Homo sapiens: one gene and its partner. The protein of the gene in region 2 purifies or fractionates together with the protein of the main gene of each other region. This does not show direct contact. Each region holds a gene or a part of one and is shown on either strand. Other genes may lie near its edges.

Region 1 (2,922 bases), on a different chromosome or scaffold from region 2:
CTTCAGTTGGAAAGATAACGGTTAAAATTTTCCATTTTTAACCACAATGGAAGTAAAAATCTGGCAATGCATACCAAAGGTTTGGAGTCGCTGAGGACGTGGTACTGCAGGAACTGATGCAGCATATAAAAGAGGTTGTGCTGGACAAGGGTTTTGATAACAAGTTCATGTAGGTAATGCTGAGGACAAAAGTAAAAAGTGAAAGAACACTTCCAAATCATTCAGCTACAACAGACTAGAGGCTCCCCAAGGACTGGCTATTCTAACCAACACAGTAAAAGTCTGTCATTACAAGAAGTGGTTTCGTCATGCAGGTAAAGACCCCAACTTGACCTTACACTTCCCATTCCAACTAATAATGTCAGGAGTCACTCAGCATTCTGAGTCAGGGAGGCAGACCTGTCTTAGCATATGAGTCATCTTCTAAGACAGTGACTGTGTTTTTTTTTTAAATTCCTTCTGTTTTAACTTGGGCCCAGATGATTTGAAGGTACCTGTACTGCAATCTGAAACTGGTTAAGAGAACGAATGTATTCCATCAGCACGGCTATCACAAATTTATGAGGCATCTCCTAGGGAGAAAAAAATGTGGTCTTACAAATACCAACGAGGTGCAAAAGAGGCTGCATATAACTCTCTATCCAACCCCCACCTTGTTTCCATCTTAAAATGGCCCAGTGTTCATCTTTCACTGGTTTTGCACACATCGCTCCAGAACCACCCGTCAACAATTATGCTTTAGGCCTCAGCATTAGAAGCCAAACTACCAGCTCTAGGGCCTCACCCAAGGAAACTCCAGTGATTCTAATCACTTCAAGTGACTCTAATCACATGAAGTCTCCTCGTTTTCAGCAACTTCCTTGTTTTGAGCATTCTCAGTCCAGAAGAGGCGGAAAGCTGCAGCCCACCTTCTTTTCCACAAAGGCTGACAGGACATGGGTGTACACATCTGACTGGTCCAGCACCGCCTGGGTCCGCACCGGCCTCTTGAGGAGCGGGCTGCTTCGGCTCTGCCCTGCTTCCACCGCCTGAAAGAAAAAAACCACAAACTATGATCTTCGGCATCTTAGAGGAAGGGTGCTGTTTACAGTTCATCCACAAGGACTGAATTCTTCGATGTGGACCCAGGATATGAGCGGAAAACACTTTCTCTACTTAGATACAACTTTTTCCTGTGCGCATGCCTGTAATCCCAGCTACTCAGGAGGCTGAGGCAGGAGAATCCCTTGAACCCAGGAGGCAGAGGTTGCGGTGAGCCAAGATCTCACCATTGCACTCCAGCCTGGGCAATAAGAACAAAACTCCGTCTCAAAAAAAAAAAAGCAGTTCAGATCCGTGCAGATTATGCAATAGCTGTGGGGTGTAGCCTGAGAACTTGCATTTCCAAGAAACTCCAGATGCTGCTCATGTGGCTGGTCAGTGGCCCACACTGCTGAGTCATGACGGTTTATGGAGCCCAGCAGACCGTGTGGGACGGCACAGAAACTGCCATTTGGGATCAGACCTACTGATTCCCACAGCCCAGAACACCCACAGCAATAGAGTCCAAAAGGACTCAGCCATCCCTCACGTCTGGCAGCGTAGGAATGGACACTGTCCCAGCAACTGGCCCTCTTCAGTGCCTGTCTCAGACCTCTTACCCTTCCATGAACAGCTAAAGGGGAGTGGAGTTCTGGGGCTTTTGTTGGTTTAAAACCATTTTCAGCCTAGGACTAATCAGATCCTGGAATTGAAATAATTCATTCTCCTTGTCCTAAACTTTTCTTCTGGCTTCAGAAGATATGATGTACAAGTAATACAGCGGGAATTGGTGGCGATAAGCCATGGTTATTACCTTGACTACAAACACGCCTGCTAAGTGCTAACACTGAATCGTCACTATCTCAACAGGATTCTTTCCCAAAAGGGAAGAAAGGTGTGGCAAATATAAATATTTCTAATTTAATTTTCTAAGTCCTCACTCTGGCATAACAGAAAAATATACAAAATATTGCAAAGCAGAGACTGATTTTTCTCATCTATAACAGTAGACCAAGGATCTACAGGCAAGATCAAACACAGATGGGAAAAACAAAAACAGTGAAGGTATGAAGTGAGATGCAGCCGCCAGCTCGTGGGATGCAGGGACCCTGAATTTACTACTCCTCCACTATCCCCCACTACTGCCACCTTGCCCTATGGCAGGCGGCAAATCTCAGCGACCTTATTCTAATATATAGGAAACAATTTTGCATCATAATTACTTAGAAAATACCCGGGAGGGGGTGGGGGAGGAGGACCCTTTGTCATACTCCATGTAACTCACCATCGCATAACTCTGCTCGGCATCCAGGTACTTTTTATACTCATGGTTGAGTTTATCAAAAACAGTGGCTATCACGGGCAGCGATGCTCTGTCTGACTCACTTAACACTGGAAAGGCACAATGTTCACACACGGATCAAACCAACTTCATGTCAGCTTCAGAATTTCCACACGTTGCTATGATAAAAACTAATCTCAAAAGGTTACCAATGCAAAAGTACCTTTAAAGGACACTCTACTTTAAAGACCTGACAGCTAGATGTCATTCGCAACCCCTTTCTGGTTACGGTTAAAAAAAAAAAAAAAAAAAAAAGCTATAGCAGGCCAGGCTCAGTGGCACATGCCTATAATCCCAGCACTTTGGGTAGGCCGAGGCAGAAGGATCACTTAACGCTGGGAGTTTGAGACCAGCCTGGGCAACAAGGCAAGACCCCATCTATACCAAAACAAAAACAAACACCAACAGCACATATTGGTAGGGGATTATTATTATTATTTTTTTTTGGATACAGGGTCTTGCTCTGTCGCCCAGGCTGGAGGTACACTGACACAAACGGCTCGCTGCAGCCTCGTCCTCCCGGGCTCAAGGAATCCTCCCTCGGCAGCCTCTGGAGTAGC
Region 2 (4,089 bases):
ACACTGTGTAATGAGTTTCCTTCTATTTTATGTTTTGCTAACACAAGGCTAACATTTCAAAAGAAGGGGAACTCATTTACACCATGAAATTAGCAAAGCAAACCACTTTTTCAATTCTCTCCAATATACCAGAAGTATCTCCACAGACAAACACTGCATGCAGAAACGAAGCTGCATGGTCCATGACAAAATTGGGCTACACAATATTGAGCAAACCTAAGGTTTTGTGATTTCAGTACCATCTTAAATGGTATTCTTGCTGACAATCTGATTTTTATCTGATGCAGCCACCACCTCCAAGGGGTCCTGAACTGAAAGGTGGGAAATTCCAATTCCATAACAACCCATATATAACATTCCAGATATCAGTCAAATGTCTGAGACCAAAAAGAGCAGACCTATTTGCTGTGAACAATGAACCTCCTTAAGTTTTTTTTTTCTCTTCTCTTTGCAGGCATTGGATAAACTGCCAGCACAGGAGCAGAGAGTTAAATATTCTGAAGTGTCTTTAAACAAAACTAACAACGGGAAAGACGATGACAAGGAAATCACAGTCATCCACTCAGTGGAGCTCATACATCTTTTGTGCCTTGAAAAAGGTTTGTCAAATTCAGGACCATAATTTAGGAACGAAATGATCATCATACCCTTGGTCTCAGGAAGTTTGTATAGGGCCCTGCACTACCTTCATGAAGAAATTCTTCTTTCCTTTGGGGCCAATACCACTCAGAAACAAATAGCTATGAACTGGCTTTTTAAAAACCTCCAGACACCAGCCTGGCCAACGTAATGAAACTCCGTCTCTACTAAAAATAAAAAAAATTAGCGGGCGTGGTGGCAGGCGCCTGTAATCCCACCTACTTGGGAGACTGAAGCAGGAGAATCACTTGAACCCGGGAGGCGGAGGTTGCAGTGAGCCGAGATCGCGCCACTGCACTCCAGCCCAGGCGACAGTGCAAGACTCCGTTGTCAAAAAAAAAAACACAAAAAACAAAAAACCTCCAGATGGGCCGGGTGCGGTGGCTCACGTCTGTAATCCCAGCACTTTGGGAGGCCGAGGCGGGCGAAATACGAGGTCAAGAGATTGAGACCATCCTGGCCAACATGGTGAAACCCCTTCTTTACTAAAAATACAAAAATTAGCTGGGCATGGTGGCGCGTGCCTGTAGTCCCAGCTACTCGGGAGACTGAGGCAGGAGAATCAGTTGAACCCAGGAGGTGGAGGTTGCAGTGAGCCGAGATCGCACCACTGCACTCCATCCTGGCAACAGAGTGAGACTCCGTCTCAAAAAAAAAAAAAGAAAGTTTCAGTTGTAACTGTCCTTAAAAACACTGGGCTGGCCCAGTGGCTCACGCCTGTAATCCAACACTTTGGGAAGCTGAGGCGGGCAGAACACTTGAGGCCAGGAGTTCAAGAACAGCCTGGCCAACAAGGCAAAACTTCGTCTCTACTAAAAATACAAAAATTAGCTGGGCATGGTGGCACAGGCCTGTACTCCCAGCTACTCGGGAGACTGAGGCATGAGAATTGCTGGAACCCAGGAGGCGGAGTCTGCAATGAGCCAAGATCACACCACTGCACTCCAGCCTGGGCGACAGAGCAAGACCCTGTCTCAAAAAACAAACAAATAAACACTGGAACAAATACAAAAACCTAGACACCAAGTAGTAATTTCTAGCAACCACTCTTCTCCATTAGATTCCTCCCCACAGATACCACTCCTCAAAAGAAAAAGCTCAGTTCTGCCTCTGGAGAAGCAGCAGGAAGTTCCTAACTTTAGTTCTCTGATCTGGGAGATGGATCTGTACTTCATCCAAATAAGGCTAGAGTCAGTGACCATAGCTAGTTACATAACTTAGTGTTAACTACATTTTCTGGGCCCTTTCAACCACATCTGAAGTTTCCTTTACTTTCTTCACCTGTACCAGCACCAGTAGCTCTGGTGAGTACCCGATTGTTTGCTGTTTACAAAGTAGATTCATCGTAAAGCTTTCTAATATAGTAACAATGCAAGGCTTTAGTCTCACCATTTATTTTCTCTCCCATTTAAACAACTTCAAGAGACAGGTTAAGAAACAAATCAGGTGATAAAAGTAGATGGAACTACTGAGACTACCGTCCCTTCTTACTCAATCTTGAGCCTTTAGTGCCAGATGGCAGAAAGCAATTCAAAAAGCTCTCGCTCCAATTATAAATATCACAGGTACTAAACAGAGGAAGCTCCCAGTTCTGACCAAGCTCTGTGTGATCTCAACCAAGCAGTTATGCTCCATCTTTTTGTCCATCTCTAATCGTACGCCTTTCACTTGGAAGGTAAGTAACAAAGGCGACCACAATCTACCGCCAAGTCTCCCGTGTCCACGTAAAATACTCGCCATTGCCCCCAGTCTTAGCCATTTAAGTAAATGTCCCCAGAGTCTTTTACTACGGCCACTCTTTCTCCATTCTCAACAAACTAGGACCGAAAGGTCCACATGGTCCTTCTTTCTTTCCGATTAAGCTTGGGGGGTAGGAAGTGAAAGATACACTTTGAAGGTAAACTGAAAAGCCGGGTTTCCTTTCTTGGATCCCGAGCAAGCCCTTGCCTTAATCCCGGGTGGTAAGAGAGTCCCTCCCTAGGATGTAAAGCGATGCCACCATCCCGAGTGCCACTACTGACGCTCAAGCCCACGCCCCCTCACAGGAGAGCAGCACCCACTCCCCAGGCCCCGCCCACGCCCTCTCACCTGAGAACAGCACCAGCTCCCCACAGCGACACCGCCCGCGCCCCACCATATAGCCAGATCACGGCTTCTCCTTCCGGGTGAGTCGCCGGTGCCCCGGTGCACGACGGGAGACGCCCCAATCCCGGGTGCCCGGGACGCCCCGCCCCTACAGGCCCGGGCTCTGAGTGGGATTCCCGCTTCCGAATAGCGCGGCTCCGCTGGCCAAGGCCCCGGACTGGAGTCGGGATCCCCCCTCCACTCACTTGGGACGCCGGAGAGTGCACGCAGGTGCCGGGTGAGGGACGGCGAATGGATATCCAATCCGGGGCCGCGTTCCGCCCACTGTCAGGGGAAGCCAATCAGCGGCCAGGGGGCGTCAGCGACGGGCAGCCAGTGGGTCCCGGGAGCAGAGGGGTGTAAGGGGGTTGTTACTCTTGTTCTCGCTATGCGAGGGATAGTCTGCAGTGTGGGAGGTTCGGGGCTTTAGGAAGCCCACATCCCTGGATCCTCACTAAGTCCCGAGAGCCACCATTTGAACCTCGTAGTTTGCTGTTCCCCAGCGGAGCTATCAAGGGGACTCCGATTCAGATTCGTAAAGCCACGGACCGATTGTCAGAGTGAAAGTCAGACTCGAGAGGGTCCGGCGACTCAGATTGCTCACACCGAAACAAACTCGAAGCAATATCATGCAGCTAGGGAGCAAGAGAAAGCCGTTCAATGTGTTGGTGGTCTTTTAACAACTTATTTAAAGATAATTTCAGCAAGCCTAGCGCGGTGGCTCACGCCTGTAATCCCAATACTATTAGGGAGGCCGAGGCGGGAGGATCGCTTGAGGCCAGGCTTGAGACACGCCCTACCAACTTAGGGAGACCCTCGCCTCTGCAAAATATTTTAAAAATTAGCCGGGCATGGTGACACGCGCCTGTAGTCCCAGCTACTCGGGAGGCTGAGACAGGAGGATGGCTTGAACCCAGGGGTTCGAGGCTGCAGTGAGCCCTGATCACTGCAGAGCAAGACCCTGTCTGAAAAAAAGAGAGAGAGCTAAAAGGAAGAAAAGAGAGGAAAGAAAAGAAAGGGGCCGGGCACAGTGCCTCACGCCTGTACTTCCACCACTTTGGGAGGCGGAGGCGGGTGGATTACCTGAGGTCAGGAGTTCGAGACCAGCCTGGCCAACATGGTGAAACCCCGTCTCCACTAAAACTACAAAAATTAGCTGGGCGTGGTCATGGGCACCTGTAATCCCAGCTATTCAGGAGACTGACACAGGGGGATTGCTTGAACCCAGGAATCGGAGGTTGCAGTGAGACAAGATCGCGCCATTACACTCCAGCCTGGGAGACTCCATTGTAAAAAATAAATAAATAAAAAGGAAGATAGCTGGGT

Evidence for each region.
Region 1: the proteins of SNX11 (region 2) and RMC1 purify together in Homo sapiens (affinity purification with mass spectrometry, with the first as the bait; one large-scale study listed by BioGRID). This does not show direct contact.

Annotation. Positions count from the first base shown.
Region 1 is NC_000018.10:23,527,285-23,530,206, reverse strand, and holds part of RMC1 (regulator of MON1-CCZ1 complex), read right to left. Parts: intron 2,413-2,922; coding exon 2,306-2,412; intron 2,001-2,305; exon of another isoform or gene 1,029-2,000; coding exon 909-1,028; exon of another isoform or gene 870-908; coding exon of another isoform or gene 853-869; exon of another isoform or gene 573-852; coding exon 495-572; coding exon of another isoform or gene 480-494; intron 180-479; coding exon 75-179; intron 1-74. UniProt on the Homo sapiens protein: Component of the CCZ1-MON1 RAB7A guanine exchange factor (GEF). Acts as a positive regulator of CCZ1-MON1A/B function necessary for endosomal/autophagic flux and efficient RAB7A localization.
Region 2 is NC_000017.11:48,106,477-48,110,565, reverse strand, and holds the start of SNX11 (sorting nexin-11), read right to left. Parts: upstream 2,801-4,089; 5' UTR 2,728-2,800; intron 1-2,727. UniProt on the Homo sapiens protein: Phosphoinositide-binding protein involved in protein sorting and membrane trafficking in endosomes. Regulates the levels of TRPV3 by promoting its trafficking from the cell membrane to lysosome for degradation.